Linked DNA regions of Homo sapiens. The protein of the gene in region 1 purifies or fractionates together with the protein of each later gene. This does not show direct contact. Each region holds a gene or a part of one and is shown in the gene's direction. Other genes may lie near its edges. The genes, in order: MAST4, OLA1 and STK38L.

Region 1 (4,096 bases):
AAGGGCAGGGGACCTGACTTATTAATCTTTGTATCCCCTGCACCTGGCACACATCTCCATCAACGTACATGGAACTGAGGCGGTTGAATTTACATCCCAGGTCACTGTGCCAGAGCTCAGAATGGGACTAGAGCTGAAGGCAAGAGAGGAATCATTTATTTCCCACTGCTGAGCTGAGTGCTGGCTTCCAAGGAAATTCCAGTCACCGGACAGGCAGCATCCTCCAGCCCCAGGGAAGGACTTAAGGGTACTCTATTGGTACCTTTAGTGAAAGTTCTTTCTCCTAGTTCTTAGAGGTAAGGAAAATGAAGCAACCTGTCCTGTATCCTGTTGGTTTACAACCCAGGGCTAGGAGAATGTACATTGGAAAGTGAATCCTTTTCATCCTCTGCTTAGCTGATCATACCGAGACAGACAATTTGAGTAGGACTACAGAGCTTGGTCCTAATTAAATACAAGGACATACTTTTTTATCTTCCTCCCTATCAAAAGGTTCAAGTCTCAGACTTAACTTTTTAGTTTACAAACAGAAATAAAGACAGGAAATAGTCTTTTAAAAACGCTCCGTGTATCCAAGCCAGGCACTTTGCTGATGCATTATATATATTTGCTCTAAGCCTGCCAAGACCAGTAGTAATGTAGCCATTTACAGTTGAGGAAACTGAGGCCCAAAGAGCTTAAACGGAAAAGCAGAGATTAGAGGTCACTCCCCTTTGGGTCCGCTCACTATACCACGAAGTTTCTGTCCTTTTCCTCCAACACGCTGGTGAGTCCGTGTGCGTGGGTGACTGTGTGTGTGTGGTTCCTTTTTTCCCTATAGAGCCCTCCTTCTTGTCCGTTTTCTTGATTCCACTTTTTGGAGACAAAGTCCAGTTCTTCTCCAAGGTCTCACCATCCGCTCGCCGTCTCCCTCTGACGTCCCAAGGACGGTCAGCCACTCCCCCGCTAAGTTCGGAGTCTCAGCCCTTGGCTCCGATTCTGGGCTCCGCCCCCACCCTCCGGGGACCCCCGCCTGGTCCCTGTCCCCTGCGCCCAGGCGCTCCAGCGGGACCACGGCCCGCGCCCGGGCCCCGCCTCCCCTACCTGAGGCCCTCATGGCCGGAGGCGTCGCAGCCTCCGCCCACCAGCGCGCCTGCCCTGCCATTGGCTCTGCGGGCTGCCCGTCTCCTTGCTCCGTCCCGGAGGCAGGTTTTGCAAGGAGAAGCCGCAGTACCCGCGGCTCGGGTGCAGCGCGGGAGCACAGTGGAGCGCAGATCGCGGACCCGAGCGGGCATGTCCCCGCGCGCGGGAGCCTCCGTTTGCGGCCGGGCCCGGGCGGCTGTGAACTTAGCAGCGGGCTCCTGCGGCCCCGTCACTGCCATGTAGTCGCTGGCGGGGCTCCCTGCAGCCCGGGAGCGGCAGTGCCAGTGAGCCTGAGCCCAGGAGCCCGCGTCTTCCCCGGGAGGCGCTGAGTGCGCGCCGCGCCCCCGCCGCTCGGGAGGCACTTTGGGCCAGACAGGGAAATGGGGGAGAAAGTTTCGGAGGCGCCAGAGCCGGTGCCCCGCGGCTGCAGTGGCCACGGCAGCCGGACTCCAGCCTCTGCGCTGGTCGCCGCGTCCTCTCCGGGTGCTTCCTCGGCCGAGTCCTCCTCGGGCTCAGAAACTCTGTCGGAGGAAGGGGAGCCCGGCGGCTTCTCCAGAGAGCATCAGCCGCCGCCGCCGCCGCCGTTGGGAGGCACCCTGGGCGCCCGGGCGCCCGCCGCGTGGGCTCCGGCAAGCGTGCTGCTGGAGCGCGGAGTCCTTGCGCTGCCGCCGCCGCTTCCCGGAGGAGCTGTGCCGCCCGCGCCCCGGGGCAGCAGCGCGTCCCAGGAGGAGCAGGACGAGGAGGTGGGCCTTTCCCCAGCTTGCCCACTCTGGGTTCCGGCAGCCGGGCGACCGTAGTTTCCCATCCTGCGCACAGGCAGTGGGCAGGAGAGCGCTGTGGCCTGGAGATAGGGAGGGACCCCAAGCGCTCTGCCCCGAGCACGGGACAACGATAGTTAGGAGCCCCCCTGTGGGTTATTGACTTCCCTGTGGCTGTTACCCCCGTGTGTGTGTCTCAGTGTGCTGCCTGATGGTGTGTTTTTAAAATGTCAGAGAAGCAAACTCCTTCGTGTTTGTATCTGACTTGGTTGATCTGTGAAAGGATGCGATCTGGACATCTGGCGTGTCCCCACAACTCACCTCTGATTCTCCAAAGTGGGCGTTGTTTCCCACCGAAGCGCTTGGGCCGAGGGGCAGGGAGTTGAGGGGGAGAAATGGTGCCTTGGGGGTAAGAGGCAGGAGTAGGGTGGGGGGCAGCGGTAGCCGCGGAGTTGCCTGCGGAGGTTTCAGTGGCGCCAGCCCCCTGGGATCGCCCGCGGGTGGTTTTGGCGCGTCCCCGCAGCGTCGGTCCTCTGGGAGAAGAGGACTCCCCGCGCTCCCTCGGTGGCGCTGGCGTGCGCGCCTGCAGCTCCCGTTCAGACTTGTTTCCAGCTTGTCCAGATGAACGCTTGTCACCAAACCGAGTACAGATCGTCTTACCTTTTGCGGGGCGGAGCGGGGTGGGGGATCTGTATCTGCCCAGTTTCCTGGAAGGATGTTCCTCCAGAACTTGTGGGTCGCTTCCTGACACACTGAGCATAGGACTCTGGTGTCCTTCTGGCTGCTCTGTCCGGCTTATTTTCTGCTTTTGGAGGACAGTTAAAGAAGTGTACAATTCTTCACGTCTCAGAGCCAGACTCAGTTTAAAAAAAAAAAAGATTGTTTGCTTTGGACGTTTCTTGTGGGGAAGTCATCTTGATCAGGCAGGGCCACAAATAAAACATCACCTTAACATAGACTTATTGTGAAATTAATTCCTGAGTGCCAGTGTTGTATTTTCCTCATCTTGGATGGGGTTAGCTTTAGTAAATAATTGCCTTTGTCCCTTAGAGTAAGCAATCAGAGGCCCCCAGCCTGGAAGCAAAAACTGGATGTGGCACAAGGTTGAGAGGAGGCGAGTCCTAGCTTGGCAGAGATGGAACAAGCCTTAGCTGCTTAGCTGGTTCTTGGCCAAGCCACTTGCAGTAACCATGACCCATTCCCTAATTCCCCTAAGCCCCCATTGCAAGGATCCTGGATAAGGGTCTGGAGGCCTGCTTTCTAGAACTGCCTCTGCTACTGAGTGGTGAGACCTTGGGTATATCATTTCACTCCTCTGAGGTTCAGTTCCATAATCTGTAAAAGGAGGAGCTTCAAGGTAAATTTCATTTTCACTCTCATACTCCTGTTTCGAATCAGGAATTTCAGATGAATCCATAGCTCCAAATCGATCCTAGCGGCGGGATGTCAGGAGTTTGCTGAGTTCCTCACCCACCGCAGAGCTACATCCTAGCGGAGATGATCAAACCCTGTACTGCCCCAGCCTTCCTCGCTGATTACATCTCCCTTTCAAGGTGCGGGGCATGTGCCACGTGTTTGCCCCTTAACTTCTGCCTCCACTTCTACAGATGAGCACACTGGCATTGGGAAGCTGGGGGTGTACCCTAACTTAATGATTCACCAATAGTTCCTAATTTAGTATTGCCGCTGGTGGAGAGTAGTTAGTTGCTTTATGTTTTCTATTTAGCTAGGAGGGTGCTCCATGGTAAGTGACATGGTCTTGCAGGTGGTGGGGAGGGATGTTGTCGGGGAACTTCTGATCCCCATTCTGTCGCTGATTTATTGCCTGGCCTCAGGGTGACAGTGCTTTGCTTTGTTGGAAGTGGATATAATGATAACTTATTTCACAGGCAATGCAGTGAGAACTGGTTGATTGAAACACATTTTGGAAAGTGGAATGATTAAATAACATGGGTCACTATTTGTGAAATCTCAGAATTGCGTGTAAACTGATACAGTATTGCAATTTATTATGTAACTTAACCTGCGGCATGGGATGCTGGAAATTTCCCAGGAGCAAAATCTTGACTTGCTCTGAGAATTTTAAAGTGAAACGAAAACCAAACCATGTAGTTTTTTCCCCTCTTATGGAGTAGAGGAGTGATAATCTTTGTGAAAGGGGTTGAAGTCCAGTGTGCATTTTCTGGTTCTTACACTGGTGATGGTATGGGGCAGGG
Region 2 (4,368 bases), on another chromosome or scaffold:
GCTCACTGCAACCTTGAGCTCTCAGGCTCAAGCCATCCTCTCACCTCAGCCTCCTGAGTAGCTGGGACTACAGGTATGTGCCACTACACCCAGCTAATTTTTGTTTTTTGGTAGAGATGGGGTCTCACCACGTTGTCCAGGCTGTTCTCCAACTCCTAGGCTCAACTGATCCCCCTATCTTGGCCTCCCAAAGTGCTGGGATTACGGCCAGATTTTCAGTTAGATTGTGGTTTGAAATATGCTGCTGCCATTTACTAGTTGTGTGACTTCATCCAAATTAATCAACCTTTCTGATATTGTTTCCTCACTTGTAAAATGGGGATGGCGACCTATTTACATCCTTTAATATTAATAGCAACTAATCCCTTTAAAAGGAGCTTCTAGTGTCACAATTTTTGGACAGGTATCATATTCATTACAACAAATACCTGAATGACATCTGAAGGCCAGGACCTAAATGAAAGAATTCCTTCTCCAGTGGCGCTCATGGTATTGATATGATGTGGGTGAGATGGGATGAAATCCTAATATTAACAACAGCGACTACTCACAAGCCTTTTCTGTATGTGCTGAGTACTGTTGTTATGAGCTCAACACGCATTGTCTCATTTTATTCTCACACGAATAACCTCATAAGGTGGTTTTAATAGCCTCATTTTATCCAGAACGAAATTGAAGTCCAGAGAAGTTAATTTGTCTAGGGTCATACAGTCAATGAGTGGCGAAATCCAGATTGGAAATTCCCAAATTTCAAAGGCCCCTGCTCTCAACTACCAAGAGGAAAAGGGGGGAAATTGGCTCAATTAAACGCATTCTGTGATCCAGTACCTGTGTGCGACGCTTTAACTATAAGGCGAGGAAGAAATCCCTAGACCAAAGTTTCCCTTAGCCCCTTTTCCTTCAAGAACTTTTAGTTAACAGCTTCTCTCCGCACAGACTGAGCGAATAAAGTTATAGAAAAGGGAGATGGGCTAGCGGCCACGCGGTCCTCGGGGCTGGTGTGGCTGTTTGCCTGACTTCAGACGCCCCGGATCTCCCGGAGGGAAGTCAGGGCCCAAGGCACTCCGCAGTCCAGCTGGGAAAGCTTGGGGCTGTAGGCCCGCGAGTGAACGTGAGCAGGTAACCCAGGCCGCGCAGCCAGACGGAAGCGGAGACCTAGAACCGAGAAGCCCACGTGCCGAAGCGGAAGACTAGAGCTCCCGGGAACGGCCTAGCCAGCGCCTTCCCCTCTCCAGCTCCCTGCCGCCGCGCGGCTCCTCCCACCCTGGGCTCCTCCCGCCCTACTCCCGCCTCCCCGGCCGGTTAGGCCAATGGGCGGGACGCGCGGGCAAGGCGGGGAGGGGCGGGGCCCATGGTCTGCGCGCAGGTGCCGCTCGGCGCCCGGCCCGCCCGTTCCGCCGCTGTCGCCGCCGTCGTGCGTGCCGCTCGGCGGAGGGGACGGGCCTGCGTTCTCTCCTCCTTCCTCCCCGCCTCCAGCTGCCGGCAGGACCTTTCTCTCGCTGCCGCTGGGACCCCGTGTCATCGCCCAGGCCGAGCACGGTGAGGCCCTCAGGGAGCCCGGGGGCGCGATCTCCGCCAGGTCTTCGGCGCCTGGGCTCATTGCCCTGAGGCTGGCGCGGGGCCCGGGCCCAGTGGCCAAGATGGGGCCAGGGCAGCGGGTGGCTTGGGGATGTGTGGATGAATGAGGCGCTGTCGGACTAGGCCGCGCGTCGGGAGATCGGCCTACGCCTCACGCGGGAAAGCCCTGGGGAAAGCCTTCTCCCGACGCCAGGACGCCCGGTGGCCCAGTCCGGAGAGGAGGATGGGGGGTGGGGCCCACTTTGGGTGGGCTGCCGGCCACCTCTCTGTAGGCCAGAGGACCCGACAGGCGCTGTTCCTGTATCTGTTCTTTGGAGGCCTGGGAGTTGGCCAGGAACAGGTGTCAGGACGCTGAGAAGGGAAATTCCTGGCCCTCGGGGTCAGGGATCAGAGGCTGGAATACTACTGCAAGGGCAGGGCCCCAGCGTGGTCCTAGGAGGTACAACTCTCAGCCAGAAGACTGGGACAGTTTTAGTTCCCAGCTTCTGAGACGTGAGCTTAGCGGTCTTTGTGATTTCACTTTGCAGTCCAAGGGTGGGAGTAATTCTGCACGCATGATTTGGAGACAGAACTAGTAAGGGACAGAGAAAGTTTCGACTTGTAAATAAAAAGGTTCCGTCGATTAATTTACCATTAGAAATAGTAACCATAATGTAGATTTTGGAGGTTGCTTATGAGGACTGATGAGCCGTACCTTCAGTGCCAAAGGTGGGAGGGACTTGGTGGAAGGACCCCAGTACCTGGTGGGTGTTCATCTATGTGAAAAATGGGGGTTGTGGGCGAATGGGAAAGATAAGATTCCAGATTATAGAGGAATGGTTTGGTGTGAAGGGTGACTTGGCTGCTGGTGGTTCCACAATGGAATTTTCTTTGACTGTCTTCTGTGTACTTGCTTCCAAATGCTTTCTTTCATATAACCATATATCAGGTTAAGATATAAAGTGTTTTGTGAGCAGTCTGGATGGAAGATTGGTAGCTAAACTCTAAGTTTATCTTTGATTCCTGGTGCCACAAATATTTTATTTATTTATTTATTTATTTAAGACAGAGCCTAGCTTTGTCGCTCAGGCAGAGCCCAGTGGCGTGATCTTGGCGCACCGCAACCTTCGCCTCCCGAGTTCAAGCAGTTCTCGAGCCTCAGCCTCCCGAGTAGCTGGAATTACAGGCTGCGCGCCTGATGGCCGGCTAATTTTTTTGTATTTGTTTTTCTTTTTAGTAGAGACGGGGTTTCTCCGTGTTGGCCAGGCTGGTCTCGACTCCTGGTCTCAAGCAGTCTGCCCACCTCGGCCTCCCCCTCCCAAAGTGCTGGGATTACAGGCCTGAGCCACCGTGCCCGGCCCAACAAATATTGATTTTAGATCAGTCTTTCTGGGACTTCTCAGCAATGACTCTTTTGACAACGGATATGTTTACAGAACTTTTTAAACATTTTTGCTGAAAAAAAAGTGGATTTAGCTCTGTGTTAGTTTTGGATCGCTATATACAGTATGTTTTGTTCTTAATCTTAATTCAATAATATATTGTATGTGATGAAATGTGTTTTGGGTCCATGTGGATAGTAAAAAGTTTTGTTCATATGTTTGCTTTGGTATTTCAGATGCCCCCTAAAAAGGGAGGTGATGGAATTAAACCACCCCCAATCATTGGAAGATTTGGAACCTCACTGAAAATTGGTATTGTTGGATTGCCAAATGTTGGGTAGGTGAACGTTGGGGCTTTTGTGATTTTCATTTTGTAAATATTTTGGGTCCTATTGTAGAAATGGGAACCGTGAGGTAATTAAACTTTAAGTTGAAGAAAAGAGGCCAGGAAGCTGGACTATTAATATTGCAAAATTAGGCTTTAGTTTAGATGTATTTTATTGATTTCAGTGCTGGTTGGCTATGTGTGGTACCTACATAGGCTGTCTACCAGAGGCCATGCAGTAGGCTACTTTAGGAAATTGATTTGAAAGCTCCACCATAATAAGCTTGATGGAGAAGGAGGTGACAGTTTTGAATTTCGTAGTGGAAATCGTAAAAGGTTTGCTGTTATAAAGAGTCTAAATCTGAAAGTTCTGAGAGCAGAAATTTGAGTTTTGTAATATTTTCTTTTCTTTTTCTTTTTTTTTTTTGAGATGGAGTCTCACTCTGTCGCCCAGGCTGGAATGCAGTGGCATGATCTTGACTCACTGCAACCTCTGCCTCCCGGGTTCAAGTGATTCTCCTGTCTCAGCTTCCTGAGTAGCTGGGATTACAGGCGCGCACCACCACGCCCAGCTAATTTTTGTATTTTTAGTAGAGACGGGGTTTCACCATGTTGGCCAGGCTGGTCTTGAACCCCTGACCTCATATGATCCACCTGCCTCAGCCTCTTATAGTGCTGGGATTACAGGCATGAGCCACTGAGCCCAGCTGTAATGTTTTCAAAGTTACAGTGAATTGAATATATGCAAATAAGAGAGTGATAGGAAATATATGTGGGGTTTATCATAACTCTATACACACGCAACTTAAGTGTTCAAAGTCTTCTTTTTTTTTGAGATGGAGTCTTGCTCTTTTGCCCAGGCTGGAGTGCAGTGACGTGATCTCAGCTCACTGCAGCCTCTGCCTCCCAGGTTCCAGCAATTATCCTGCCTCTGCCTCCCGGGTAGCTGGGATTACAGGCATGTGCCACCACGCCCGGCTAATTTTTCTATTTTTAGTAGAGACGGGGTTTTACCATGTTGGCCAGGCTGGTGTTGAACTCCTGACCTCAGGTGATCTGCCTGCCTTGGCTTCCCAAAGTGCTGGGATTACAGGTGTGAGCCAC
Region 3 (3,646 bases), on another chromosome or scaffold:
TCAGGAGACAGGGTTATAGGGGATTTTGTTGATGACAGGCTATGATTCCCCAGAGGGAAGAGGTGTGGAAGGCAAGGAAGGTTGAGATACTGAGTTGGATTAGAGAACTATAGATAATGATGGGAATATAGCAAGACCCCATTCTCCACAAAAAGGAAGAAAAAAGAAAGATAATGATGGCAATAAGGACGTGGGTAAAGATGCATAGCCTCAGAGACAGGGAGGGCAACAGGAATCTAACTTAGCCATAATGGGATTAGTCCTACTAGGGTATAATAGGAAGGACAGAAGGAAGCAGTTAGTTCCAGCTGTAGTGTAGATACCAGCCAGCCACATGTGGCTACTGGGCACAAATTGGGATATCCAGCAAATAAGGCTTGGTGCAAAAATAAATAAATAAATAAATAAAATATTTCAATGATTTTTATATTGATTACATACTAAGGTGATAATATTCGGATATATTAGGTTACATAAACTGTATTATTAAAAATAATTTCATTCTGTATGTGGCTTCTAGAAAATTTAAAAATTACATACATGACTTGTGTTACATCTGTACTGGACAGCCCTTGGTCTACAATATTTTGTGGGAAGTTAAGGAGCCTCTGGACCACTGCTCTTTCCTGTGGGGAGGTGGGGGGCGGAAATCTCTCCGTAGCCTAACGTCTAGTTGCCTTTGCATTTTGGGGTTGTTTTTTACCCCTGTATAAATTAATTTGCATTTGTTACCACTGGATTTTGTTTTAGAAAGCTTTTTTCTACTCAATTCTAATACATCAATATTTTAACTTTTATCACATTTATTTTAATGCAAACCACCCCCACAAAATTAAATACCAACTGATCTCCTCACTGTTGTTCTACCAGATTACTATAGGTCATACTTTCCAACCTTTGGATCCTGTTTTGGAAAGGGATCCTGTAATTTGGCTTTAAACCATTTAAAAATAATCAAGCCATGTTTATGTTGTAGTTGTTTTCCTTACACACCAGATGCAACACCAAAGTTTAGGGCTTTTCCTTACCACCTTAAATTGCTTCATGAAAGGTAATAGGTAGGCACTCTTGCTACCACTTTTCACTTAATGAAACAGATCCATAGAAATTATAAAGTATTTTCATGCCAGAAGACAAGTTCTTACTCCTCAACTCTTACGCTTTGATCTCAGAATATTTACTGCACTAGGAGTAATTCCAAATATGACACTTTAAGCAGATCATATTTTATTATCATAGAAAGGTTTACAAATGTATGTTCTCATGTGCTTTGGACCAGAGTTTTTAACGTTGCACAATGAAAATAGCAAAAGCATAAATCAAATCTTATTAATCTTTGGAAAAAGTGTATAAATATATTAATGCAAAAGCATCTGCAAACTGACCAGTTATACCAACCCCATAAATTATCCAGTTTATAAAATTTTCCAGTCTATAACATTTTCACATGATAGTATCTCTAGTAATTATGTGTCCGAGAAATCAGTGGCAAAATCCCCAAAAGTTACACAAATTTGCTTTAGCTAACATTTATAGATATGGTAGAGGTTTTATATTATAACAATAATATAACATAAAGTTACTATAATTGTTACTATTTCTTTAAAAAACACCAAATAATGATCAAGCTGGGACCTTTGTTTAACAATTAAAAATAGTTTGCTATTTTTAGCCAAGCTTAGGTTTGCTGTACCAATTTACAGGGCATTGCTTACTCTTTTTTTTTTTGAGATGGAGTCTCGTTCTGTCACCAAGCTGGAGTGCAGTGACGCAATCTCGGCTCACTGCAACCTCCGCCTCCCGGGTTCAAGCGATTCTCCTGCCTCAGCCTCCTGAGTAGCCGGGACTACTGGTGTGTGCCACCATGCCTGGCTAATTTTTTGTATGTTTAGTAGAGACGGGGTTTCACCGTTTTAGCCAGGATGGTCTCAATCTCCTGACCTCGTGATCCACCTGCCCTGGCCTCCCAAAGTGCTGGGATTACAGGCGTGAGCCACTGTGCCCGGCCCTGCTTACTACTTTTAACTTTAAAAATCACACTAGTGCCCTAAATTTATGTGACAAAGCCAGGATCCTAGGCTGGGTAGAGATTCTGGTTAAAAAGTTGTTAGACTGATTCTTGCTCTACCTCAGAGGCCTCAGCTTCACGTAATATACCTGTTGACCTCACCTTTTCAGACCTAAAGATATAAGCTAAAATAAACTATTTCTTGAGGTTCTCCATATTTGATGAGAATACGAACATTCATACATGTATCAAATCTTCTGAAACTCCATCTTTCCTTCATTAACTGTTATGGATGGATAAGTGTAAGAGATGAGTTTAACAAATGTGTGATGTATTTACAATTATTTTTTTCAAAAATATATTCATCTAGGTGGCCCATATCCGAGCAGAAAGAGATATTTTGGTAGAAGCAGATGGTGCCTGGGTGGTGAAGATGTTTTACAGTTTTCAGGATAAGAGGAATCTTTATCTAATCATGGAATTTCTCCCTGGAGGTAAAAGCAAACATTGTATCAATGACAGACTGATACAAGCACATCTTTATATGCAACAATAATTTTATTGGTGAGGTTTACTTTTATATTCTTTGCTCTGAGGCTTTACATAGTCACAGTTTAAAAATATTTACTACCATATTGATGCTCATTTTTACCACAAAACAGATTGTTTTGAAGGAATTATAAAGTTAGCACATTTTAAATATTACCGTTCTGGGTTCACTGTATATAATTAGGTTGTTATAAGTTGTGTTAGTTTATTTTATGTTGTTACAAAAAATACCTGAGACTGGATGGGCGCAGTGGCTCACGCCTGTAATCCCAGCACTTTGGGAGGCCGAGGCGGATGGATCACGAGGTCAGGAGATCAAGACCATCCTGGCTAACAAGGTGAAACCCCGTCTCTACTAAAAATAAAAAAAATTAGCTGGGCGCAGTGGCGGGCGCCTGTAGTCCCAGCTACTTGGGAGGCTGAGGCAGGAGAATGGTGTGAACCCGGGAGGCGGAGCTTGCAGTGAGCCGAGATAGCGCCACTGCAGTCCGGCCTGGGCGAAAACAGCGAGACTACGTCTCAAAAAAAAAAAAAAAAAATACCTGAGACTGTGTAATTTATAAAGGAAAGAGGTTTAATCATTGCTCAGCAAAGAGGGCAAGGGGAAAAGAATGGCAATGGAGGGCAAAGAATTCTGGGTTTTGTTTTGTTTTGTTTTAATTTTTATTTTTTGAGATGAAGTCTCGCTCTGTTGCCTAGGCTGGAGTGCAGTGGTGTGATCTTGGCTCACTACAACCTCTGCCTCCCGGGTTCAAGCGATTCTCCTGTCTCAGCCTCCTGAGTAGCTGGGATTACAGGTGCCCACCACCATGCCCAGCTAATTTTTTTTGTATTTAGTAGAGACGGGGTTTCACCATGTTGGTCAGGCTGGTCTCAAACTCCTGACCTCAAGTGATCCACCCACCTCAGCCTCCCAGAGTGTTGGGAATACAGGCGTGAACCACTGCCCCTGGCTCCCTATTTTTTTTAAAGCCTCAAAAAATATATGAAAAAAATGTAATCAGTTGTCAATTCTGTGTTGTAAGTGCACCAGTGTTTACAACAGTTAAAACTGTTAAAACTTTTAAAATTCCTTGAAAATAAAAGAAT

What was found.
Region 2: the proteins of MAST4 (region 1) and OLA1 fractionate together in Homo sapiens (co-fractionation; one large-scale study listed by BioGRID). This does not show direct contact.
Region 3: the proteins of MAST4 (region 1) and STK38L purify together in Homo sapiens (pull-down; one large-scale study listed by IntAct). This does not show direct contact.

Annotation. Positions count from the first base shown.
Region 1 is NC_000005.10:66,595,154-66,599,249, forward strand, and holds the start of MAST4 (microtubule-associated serine/threonine-protein kinase 4), read left to right. Parts: upstream 1-1,239; 5' UTR 1,240-1,502; coding exon 1,503-1,865; intron 1,866-4,096.
Region 2 is NC_000002.12:174,245,623-174,249,990, reverse strand, and holds the start of OLA1 (obg-like ATPase 1), read left to right. Parts: upstream 1-1,458; 5' UTR 1,459-1,539; intron 1,540-3,175; coding exon 3,176-3,276; intron 3,277-4,368. UniProt on the Homo sapiens protein: Hydrolyzes ATP, and can also hydrolyze GTP with lower efficiency. Has lower affinity for GTP.
Region 3 is NC_000012.12:27,310,171-27,313,816, forward strand, and holds part of STK38L (serine/threonine-protein kinase 38-like), read left to right. Parts: intron 1-2,378; coding exon 2,379-2,502; intron 2,503-3,646. UniProt on the Homo sapiens protein: Involved in the regulation of structural processes in differentiating and mature neuronal cells.